Regions from separate parts of the Homo sapiens genome. Here all the other regions are reported to be linked to region 3. The links are microRNA targets in miRTarBase. Many come from high-throughput screens and were not tested one by one. Region 3 holds a microRNA gene; each other region holds the end of a gene's coding sequence.

Evidence for each region. Region 3 holds the annotated microRNA hsa-miR-6798-5p (CCAGGGGGAUGGGCGAGCUUGGG, at 1,040-1,062, shown strand). A microRNA usually pairs through its seed, bases 2 to 8, with sites in the 3' UTR of a target mRNA and lowers its output. Matches are read on the target gene's strand: a 7mer-m8 pairs with bases 2 to 8, a 7mer-A1 pairs with bases 2 to 7 and ends in A, and an 8mer does both.
Region 1: miRTarBase lists BTG2 as a target of hsa-miR-6798-5p. Seed matches in the 3' UTR shown: 7mer-m8 at 1,758-1,764 and 7mer-A1 at 2,658-2,664.
Region 2: the mRNA of ZBTB7B is a reported target of hsa-miR-6798-5p. Seed matches in the 3' UTR shown: 7mer-A1 at 1,383-1,389.

What each region holds. Positions count from the first base shown.
Region 1 is chr1:203,306,750-203,309,994 of GRCh38, forward strand. It overlaps BTG2 (BTG anti-proliferation factor 2), which reads left to right. Exons shown (of 2, transcript NM_006763.3): 2 at 355-2,853. The coding sequence ends at 689. Among named protein-coding and RNA genes, the nearest start is that of BTG2, 2.9 kb to the left of the region's middle. RefSeq lists enhancers at 47-989, 406-645, 990-1,932.
Region 2 is chr1:155,016,186-155,019,404 of GRCh38, forward strand. ZBTB7B (zinc finger and BTB domain containing 7B) reads left to right here. Exons shown (of 3, transcript NM_001256455.2): 3 at 35-2,338. The coding sequence ends at 500. It overlaps DCST2 (DC-STAMP domain containing 2), which reads right to left. Exons shown (of 15, transcript NM_144622.3): 15 at 2,342-2,575. The coding sequence ends at 2,359. Among named protein-coding and RNA genes, the nearest start is that of ZBTB7B, 15 kb to the left of the region's middle. RefSeq lists an enhancer at 1,090-1,234, a silencer at 1,131-1,600 and a cis regulatory region at 1,162.
Region 3 is chr19:49,008,872-49,012,116 of GRCh38, forward strand. It overlaps MIR6798 (microRNA 6798), which reads left to right and starts at 1,035; the gene lies at 1,035-1,101. RUVBL2 (RuvB like AAA ATPase 2) reads left to right here. Exons shown (of 15, transcript NM_006666.3): 7 at 905-1,011; 8 at 1,102-1,195; 9 at 1,617-1,740; 10 at 2,128-2,222; 11 at 2,321-2,439. RefSeq lists an enhancer at 569-1,070 and a silencer at 2,893-3,067.

The DNA of each region.
Region 1 (3,245 bases), not on the chromosome of region 3:
ACACTGGCCACTAGAGAGTACCCTAGAGCTCTAGAATCCCCTCCCAACACGCACACACACACACACACACACTCTCTCTCTCACACACACACACTCAGTCACACACACACACACACACACACACACTCTCTCACATACACTTGTCCTGGAAGCAGGAAAGTGGATCTTTCCAGCTTCCATAAAATTTTCTCTGCTAAGTGGAAAGAGGGTCCTAGAACTCAGAGGAATCCACCTCCCTTACTTAAAGGGCCCCTTTCTCTCCTCCTGTCCCTTGACCCTCCACCCCGCCCTATGGTAGTATCCATGGCCTAGCTGCTCTAACCAGGGCATCTGCCCCTGGTCCTGTCTCCACAGAGCACTACAAACACCACTGGTTTCCCGAAAAGCCGTCCAAGGGCTCCGGCTACCGCTGCATTCGCATCAACCACAAGATGGACCCCATCATCAGCAGGGTGGCCAGCCAGATCGGACTCAGCCAGCCCCAGCTGCACCAGCTGCTGCCCAGCGAGCTGACCCTGTGGGTGGACCCCTATGAGGTGTCCTACCGCATTGGGGAGGACGGCTCCATCTGCGTCTTGTACGAGGAGGCCCCACTGGCCGCCTCCTGTGGGCTCCTCACCTGCAAGAACCAAGTGCTGCTGGGCCGGAGCAGCCCCTCCAAGAACTACGTGATGGCAGTCTCCAGCTAGGCCCTTCCGCCCCCGCCCTGGGCGCCGCCGTGCTCATGCTGCCGTGACAACAGGCCACCACATACCTCAACCTGGGGAACTGTATTTTTAAATGAAGAGCTATTTATATATATTATTTTTTTTTAAGAAAGGAGGAAAAGAAACCAAAAGTTTTTTTTAAGAAAAAAAATCCTTCAAGGGAGCTGCTTGGAAGTGGCCTCCCCAGGTGCCTTTGGAGAGAACTGTTGCGTGCTTGAGTCTGTGAGCCAGTGTCTGCCTATAGGAGGGGGAGCTGTTAGGGGGTAGACCTAGCCAAGGAGAAGTGGGAGACGTTTGGCTAGCACCCCAGGAAGATGTGAGAGGGAGCAAGCAAGGTTAGCAACTGTGAACAGAGAGGTCGGGATTTGCCCTGGGGGAGGAAGAGAGGCCAAGTTCAGAGCTCTCTGTCTCCCCCAGCCAGACACCTGCATCCCTGGCTCCTCTATTACTCAGGGGCATTCATGCCTGGACTTAAACAATACTATGTTATCTTTTCTTTTATTTTTCTAATGAGGTCCTGGGCAGAGAGTGAAAAGGCCTCTCCTGATTCCTACTGTCCTAAGCTGCTTTTCTTGAAATCATGACTTGTTTCTAATTCTACCCTCAGGGGCCTGTAGATGTTGCTTTCCAGCCAGGAATCTAAAGCTTTGGGTTTTCTGAGGGGGGGGAGGAGGGAACTGGAGGTTATTGGGGTTAGGATGGAAGGGAACTCTGCACAAAACCTTTGCTTTGCTAGTGCTGCTTTGTGTGTATGTGTGGCAAATAATTTGGGGGTGATTTGCAATGAAATTTTGGGACCCAAAGAGTATCCACTGGGGATGTTTTTTGGCCAAAACTCTTCCTTTTGGAACCACATGAAAGTCTTGATGCTGCTGCCATGATCCCTTTGAGAGGTGGCTCAAAAGCTACAGGGAACTCCAGGTCCTTTATTACTGCCTTCTTTTCAAAAGCACAACTCTCCTCTAACCCTCCCCTCCCCCTTCCCTTCTGGTCGGGTCATAGAGCTACCGTATTTTCTAGGACAAGAGTTCTCAGTCACTGTGCAATATGCCCCCTGGGTCCCAGGAGGGTCTGGAGGAAAACTGGCTATCAGAACCTCCTGATGCCCTGGTGGGCTTAGGGAACCATCTCTCCTGCTCTCCTTGGGATGATGGCTGGCTAGTCAGCCTTGCATGTATTCCTTGGCTGAATGGGAGAGTGCCCCATGTTCTGCAAGACTACTTGGTATTCTTGTAGGGCCGACACTAAATAAAAGCCAAACCTTGGGCACTGTTTTTTCTCCCTGGTGCTCAGAGCACCTGTGGGAAAGGTTGCTGTCTGTCTCAGTACAATCCAAATTTGTCGTAGACTTGTGCAATATATACTGTTGTGGGTTGGAGAAAAGTGGAAAGCTACACTGGGAAGAAACTCCCTTCCTTCAATTTCTCAGTGACATTGATGAGGGGTCCTCAAAAGACCTCGAGTTTCCCAAACCGAATCACCTTAAGAAGGACAGGGCTAGGGCATTTGGCCAGGATGGCCACCCTCCTGCTGTTGCCCCTTAGTGAGGAATCTTCACCCCACTTCCTCTACCCCCAGGTTCTCCTCCCCACAGCCAGTCCCCTTTCCTGGATTTCTAAACTGCTCAATTTTGACTCAAAGGTGCTATTTACCAAACACTCTCCCTACCCATTCCTGCCAGCTCTGCCTCCTTTTCAACTCTCCACATTTTGTATTGCCTTCCCAGACCTGCTTCCAGTCTTTATTGCTTTAAAGTTCACTTTGGGCCCACAGACCCAAGAGCTAATTTTCTGGTTTGTGGGTTGAAACAAAGCTGTGAATCACTGCAGGCTGTGTTCTTGCATCTTGTCTGCAAACAGGTCCCTGCCTTTTTAGAAGCAGCCTCATGGTCTCATGCTTAATCTTGTCTCTCTTCTCTTCTTTATGATGTTCACTTTAAAAACAACAAAACCCCTGAGCTGGACTGTTGAGCAGGCCTGTCTCTCCTATTAAGTAAAAATAAATAGTAGTAGTATGTTTGTAAGCTATTCTGACAGAAAAGACAAAGGTTACTAATTGTATGATAGTGTTTTTATATGGAAGAATGTACAGCTTATGGACAAATGTACACCTTTTTGTTACTTTAATAAAAATGTAGTAGGATAAACTTGTGTGGTGTAGAGAAGTTAAAATCCTCACGTTGTACATTTGTGTTTCCCTTTCAGATCCAAATCCTTTCTTTGTGTTTAATAGTATTTCTCCTCACTTGCACTCAGACAATCTATAGCATGTGGGTGGTATAAAAGAAAAATCTGGTTGTATGGCTGGGCCATTTCCAAGCATCCCCTCTTTCCTGGAAAGTAGCTCCTTACTTCCCTCCGTTTTGTTTGTTTGTTTGTTTGTTTTGAGACAGTTTTGTCACTCAGGCTGGAGTGCAGTGGTGCAATCTCAGCTCATTGCAACCTCTGCCTCCTGGGCTCAAATAATTCTCCCACCTCTGCCTCTTGAGTAGCTGAGATTGCAGGCATGTGCCATCAGGCCCAGCTGATTTTTGTATTT
Region 2 (3,219 bases), not on the chromosome of region 3:
ACACCTCCCTGCCCCTCACCCCTGCCTGTGCCAGGAACGACAAGCTGAAGATCCACATGCGGAAGCACACGGGAGAGCGCCCCTACTCATGCCCGCACTGCCCAGCCCGCTTCCTGCACAGCTACGACCTCAAGAACCACATGCACCTGCACACAGGGGACCGGCCCTATGAGTGCCACCTGTGCCACAAGGCTTTCGCCAAGGAGGACCACCTGCAGCGCCACCTCAAAGGCCAGAACTGCCTGGAGGTGCGCACCCGACGGCGCCGCAAGGACGATGCACCACCCCACTACCCACCACCCTCTACCGCTGCTGCATCCCCCGCTGGCCTCGACCTCTCCAATGGCCACCTGGACACCTTCCGCCTCTCTCTAGCTCGATTCTGGGAGCAGTCAGCCCCCACTGGGCCCCCGGTCTCTACCCCAGGGCCCCCTGATGACGATGAGGAGGAAGGGGCACCCACCACACCCCAGGCTGAAGGTGCCATGGAGTCCTCTTAAAGAGGGACGAGGGCCAGACTGAAGCAGCACAAGGCCGGGGACACCCATGCCAAGCAGTGGGAGCACGCAGGACAGACACAGCAGGGGTCTGGGGCACGGAGCCTTGCTGGCATCAGCATCAGCCCTTCCTCCCAGAGCCCTCATTCCAATTCCAAGCTAAGAAGGTATTGGGGCAGAGGCTCCCCAAATTGGGGTGATCCCCCAAGGAGTGATACATATATTGTGTATATATTTACAGCTGTATTGTAAAAGTGGGGTCCCTGTCCCCAGCTGCTCCTGGGGAGTAGAAGCAATAATGTATTTCTAATTTGTGGGTCCCACTTCGGCTATGCGGGTTTCTAGGGGGTGGGGGCTTGGGACCAAAGCCTTGCCCCGCCCCTATGCCCCTTGGGGGTTTTGGCTGTGTAAGGGGGTGAAGGACTGCCCCTCCCTTTCGAGACCCCTCCTTCCTGGTTTCTGTTCCTTTTTCCTGGCAGTGAATTATGCAAAGGGGGCCGGCAAAGGAAGGGTAGGTGGGGGAAAGCCAGGTGGAAGCTTGAAAGACTGGGGGACTGGGCCTGTAAGGAAGGAGCCATCCCAGTCCCCCTCCGCCCTGCTCCCGGCGCTGAGTCATGGGGTCGTGGAGAAGGGGGCGGGGTGGCCTGATTGGCTCGCCTGCCCCTGGGGGCAGTAGAGGGGCCCCGCCCAGCTAGGGGAGCCGCTCCGTTCCACTCCCCTCCCTAGCCCTCCCTCCCCACGGCCCTGGGCAGGGAATGTCTTGTTCCCGCCGCTCCCTCCCCGGGGCCAGAGGGCAGGGCGGGCCGGGCGGCGTCCTACCCTCTTCTCCTCCTCCCCATCTCCTCCCCGCCCAGGTGCGAGCCGGAGCCGCCGCCACCGCTGCCGCCCCTGACTCACGCCGCCCCCGGGCTGGCGCAGCGAAGGGTGTGGGACAGGGTAAGGGGTTGGAAGAGCCTTGTGGAGAGCGGGCGAGCCGGCGCCATCTGGCGGCCATGCTCTGAGTGGGCGAGCGCCCCCCGCGGCCACTGGAGCGAGCTGTCTTCACGCTCCTCATCCACCCCAGCTGGTGAGCGGCGCCCCCTTGCCAAGGCAGTGGGCACAGAACTTCTCGCTTGGCCGCAGGGGAAGGGGCTGCGGACCTGTGGGAAAGTGATCCCCTTCCCAGATCCTTGCCAGCCGGGCTTCCTGTCAGGCAGGGGAGAATAATCCCCACTCTGCTCTTAGGATTGAATCCACCCCCATTCTGTACATAGCCTCTTCTGTTGGTCTTGTTGAAATCTAGTTTCAGATTTTTAACTACCCAATTCTGCTGGGGGTGGGGGACACCCCCCCTTCCTCGCTGGGTGCTGGACCCCTTTTGCAGCCTGGGCTCTGCCTTGCACTATTTCCCCTTCCTGGCCTGACGGCTCCTCCCCCTCCTTAAAAGGGGCAGGTTCAGGGGCCCGGTGCTCTTCCTCCCTTCCATGCACCCCCATGCCCATTTGCACAGCTGCCCAGGTACCCCTAACAGTGGGGAGGGGTCACAGGGAGGGGGTAGCGGGACCAGTCCCTGTTATCTATTTAAAAAGTGATGATGTAATATATTGGGGTGGCGGGGAGATCGGGTTGTCCTGGGCCTCATCTTAGCATTTCAGGTGATGGGGGGAGCCCAGGGCTGGGGAGACCTGGGGCCCAGCCCCAGAAAGTGGGGACAATGTGGCCTCCCTTCTCCCTACTTTCGGCTTTCCCAGTCAGTGCCTTAGGGGGAGAGGCACTCCCCCCCTCCTATTCCCTTCCCCCCACCCCAACTCCCCCACCTCGGGTGTAAGCGACAGGAAGAAATAATAATAATTTAAGATTCACACTTGTGTCCACTTTTGGTTTATTTGGGGGGTGGGTGGGAAGGATCAGGAAGAGAGGGAGGTGAGAGAGGGACTGAGGGTTCTGAAGCTGGAGTGGGGGCTCCTTTAGTGGCGGAGGATGTCTCAGGTGGTCTGTGGGGCTCAGGGCTGGTGAGAATGCTGACAGGCTGATGGGCTTCAGGTAAGGGCTGCTGCCCGTGCTTCCTCTGCTGAGGCCCCTTCTCCTCATCCAGGTCACTAGTGAGGAGAGGAAGGGGGTGGCCGGATCACCCACCTTCTGTCTTCACAGGTGCATCCCTGCCCCCTGCCCTGCCCCATCTGTTCAGATCCAGCTCCTGTTCTTTCTGAGCAACTCCTGCTCTCTCAGGCCCACGAGGCGTACCAGCCCATGGCTGTAGATATTTTCTGATTTTAGGCTGATGCTGGGGGGTGGGCAGTGACTTGCCTGAGGCCACATGGCTAGGAAGGGCAGAATCACTAGTGACCTCAGTAGTCACACCTGCTCAAGGCTCAAGCTGTCCCCTCTGCTGACCCAGCTTATCCTTTCACTGGGCCCTCTAGAACCTCTGAAAAGAAAGCTTTGCTTCCCCTTCAACCTCTTGACTCATCATGACCTCTACCGCCCCATTCACACTGGAATGTGCCCACTGGACAGTTTTCTTTGCAGTCCTCCCAAGAGGAGGCAGCTTAACCTTCTCAAACCCAGCTGGCCCGTAGTGTTTTTTTGCAAAGCCCCTGGCTGCCATGATAGCTGTACCACCAGTGCTGTGGCTGTCTCCTCAGGCCTGCCAGACACCTGCCACATCTGTTTAAGATGCCGGCTCTGGACTCCTGCTGTTTGTATGGTCCTGCAACCTCGTCGCTAGAGGACCCACCCAATT
Region 3 (3,245 bases):
GGGAGGCTAAGGCAGGAGAATCGCTTGAATCTGGGAGGCAGAAGTTGCAGTAAGCCGAGATCACACCATTGCACTCCAGCCTGGGCAACAAGAGCGAAACTCCATCTCAAAAATAAATAAATAATAAAAACACAAAACAATTAGCTGGGTATGGTGGCACACATCTGTAATCCCAGCTACTTGGGAGGCTGAGGCAGGAGAACTACTTGAACCCGGGAGATGGAGGTTGGAGTGAGCTGAGATCACACCACTGCACTCCAGCCTGGGCGACAGAGCAAGACTCTATCTCAAAAAAAAAAAAAAAAAAAAAAAAAAAAAAAAAAAAGAGCTTTATTCACCAGGCGCAGTAGCTCACTCCTGTAATCCCAGCACTTTGGGAGGCCGAGGTGGGCAGATCACAAGGTCAGGAGATCGAGACCATCCTGGCTATCACAGTGAAACCCCATCTCTACTAAAAATACAAAAATTAGCCATGCGTGGTGGCGGGCGCCTGTAGTCCCAGCTACTCGGGAGGCTGAGGCAGGAGAATGGCGTGAACCCGGGAGGCAGAGCTTGCAGTGAGCCGAGATCATGCTACTACACTCCAGCGTGGGCGACAGAGCAAGACTCCGTCTCAAAAAAAAAAAGAACTTTATTGAGTTTTAATTGACATACAGAAAGCTGTACACATTGCAAGTGTCCAGTATGGTCCGTTGGGACATACATGTTCAGCCGCGGAGCCATCACCGCGTCAGGCTGGTGAGCGCACCGTATGTCTTCCCTGGAGAGCTTCCTTGTGTTGTGCCCATTTTGAAGCTGTGGAAGCAGAGGCCAGAGCAGAGCCAGAAGCTTATCAACACTGGGGGCACTGGGGCAACATCAGGGCCCTCTCTGAGCCCCATCCCTGGCTTGTCCCCACTCTCAGGGCTCCAAGGTGGGCAAACTGACCCTCAAGACCACAGAGATGGAGACCATCTACGACCTGGGCACCAAGATGATTGAGTCCCTGACCAAGGACAAGGTCCAGGCCGGGTGAGCAGTCAGGGGCCATGCCAGGCAGCCAGGGGGATGGGCGAGCTTGGGCCCATTCCTTTCCTTACCCTACCCCCCATCCCCCTGTAGGGACGTGATCACCATCGACAAGGCGACGGGCAAGATCTCCAAGCTGGGCCGCTCCTTCACACGCGCCCGCGACTACGACGCTATGGGCTCCCAGGTGCGGCCGGGACTCCCGGGATCCCCTCGCCCCCAGCACTGGGGTGTTTTCATCTCCTCCATCACCCCCTTGACCCATGGGGTCTGGATCTTCCTGTTACCCTGACTGTTTGTCCTGGTACTCCTGGGTCTTCCCTGTAACCCTAGGACAGCAGGGCCCCTCAGCCTGGCACTATAGCTTCGCATGGCCACATGTGGCCTGTGGCTTCTAAGGTCCTCCGGGAGCCCCCGTGACCCTCAGCGCTCTGGAATGTCCCTAGTCCTGACTACCTCCTGGGCCTGGGGTTTCCAGATGACCCCATTTAGCCTCCCAGCTCCATTTCCTGGAGCTCCAGTCTCCCCCAGACAGAGGGCTTTAGGGGCCCCCTTCATGCCCTTCCCTGCCCTGTCTCCGCCGTTCTTCCCCCACCCCCGCCCCATAGACCAAGTTCGTGCAGTGCCCAGATGGGGAGCTCCAGAAACGCAAGGAGGTGGTGCACACCGTGTCCCTGCACGAGATCGACGTCATCAACTCTCGCACCCAGGGCTTCCTGGCGCTCTTCTCAGGTGAGGCCCCTCCTGCCCTGCCCTGCCCTGCCCTGCCCCAGGCCTAGCAGCCTCCCTCGGGCTCCCTCTGTTCCTGAGCTCCGAGTGTGGCCCACCTGCTCCACGCTGTTTCCTGTAACTCCGGCCCGTGGCTGCCTCTGTTCTCCACCTGCAAGTCCGCTCCGTCCCCACCCCTGCTGGTGCTGTGATGGGTGTGGCCCTGCCCTCTCCCCTCCTGTGTTCTCTGCCTCTGTTCCTCCTCTTTGGGGATGTTTCAGGCTCCTCATCCCTCCTTGCTTTGCTCCCCTTCCTCCATCCCTGGCATCATCCTTCTCTGTCTTAGCCACACTCTGGCCCTGGAACCCGCCTCCTCTCTGGCTTCCCTGATGCAACCTGTGCCTCCCATAGGTGACACAGGGGAGATCAAGTCAGAAGTCCGTGAGCAGATCAATGCCAAGGTGGCTGAGTGGCGCGAGGAGGGCAAGGCGGAGATCATCCCTGGAGTGAGGACCCAGGACATGGCCGGGGCGGGTGGTGGGGTGGAGGTGGGCCGGGGAAGTGGGGACGCGGGTGGTGACTCTCACACACACCCCAATCCAAGGTGCTGTTCATCGACGAGGTCCACATGCTGGACATCGAGAGCTTCTCCTTCCTCAACCGGGCCCTGGAGAGTGACATGGCGCCTGTCCTGATCATGGCCACCAACCGTGGCATCACGCGGTGAGCCGGCTACAGGGGCCTCTGGGGAAAACAGGATGCTCTGGGCAGTGGGTGTGGTCAGAGGGTCAATGGGAGCCTGTGTTGACACCGGGTCAGGGAGGGACGCGTGACTGCAGTGTGCGCTCTTTGCTTACAAAAGGCGGGTGGGAGGCAGCTCTGCTTCCCGAGGAAGCCCAGAGACTGTGTTCTTGCTGCCTTTCTGTCTTGCTGCTCCTTTAGCCCCCAAGGCTGCAGTCTTCAAACTGCGTGCCGAGGCACCCCAGGGTGCTGCAGGAAACTCACAGGAGTGCTGTGGGATGTTTTCTAGTCTTGAGGGAAGCACAGTGACATCTGTTAGACATAACATAAACTACGATTGTTCAGTCACTTCGACCCAGCAACTCCATTAACAGAACTCTTAGCGTTGTGTTTGGCCTAAGGATGCCAGGGACAGATTCCCATGACACAGAGGGTACCGTGCTCTGCTGAAGCCTGGGAACCTCATCTCCCAGGTGTTGCCAGCACCCTGTGCACGGGGAACTCTTAATGTTGTGTTTGGCCTGAGGATGCCGGGGACAGATTCCTGTGACACAGAGGGTACTGTGCTGTGCTGAAGCCTGGGAACCTCGTCTCCCAGGTGTTGCCAGCACCCTGTGTAGCTGGGATTACGGGCACCTGCCACCATGCCCGCTGGCTGTCTTCTCCACCTCGCCACATTTTGGCCCGCAGGAAGCAGGGGGATGTGGAGGGCAGGCAGCCCCCATAGGCTGTGATCCACAGGCTGCACCCCAACCTTGCACCCCCATTCCATTGCCCGGCACTGCTTG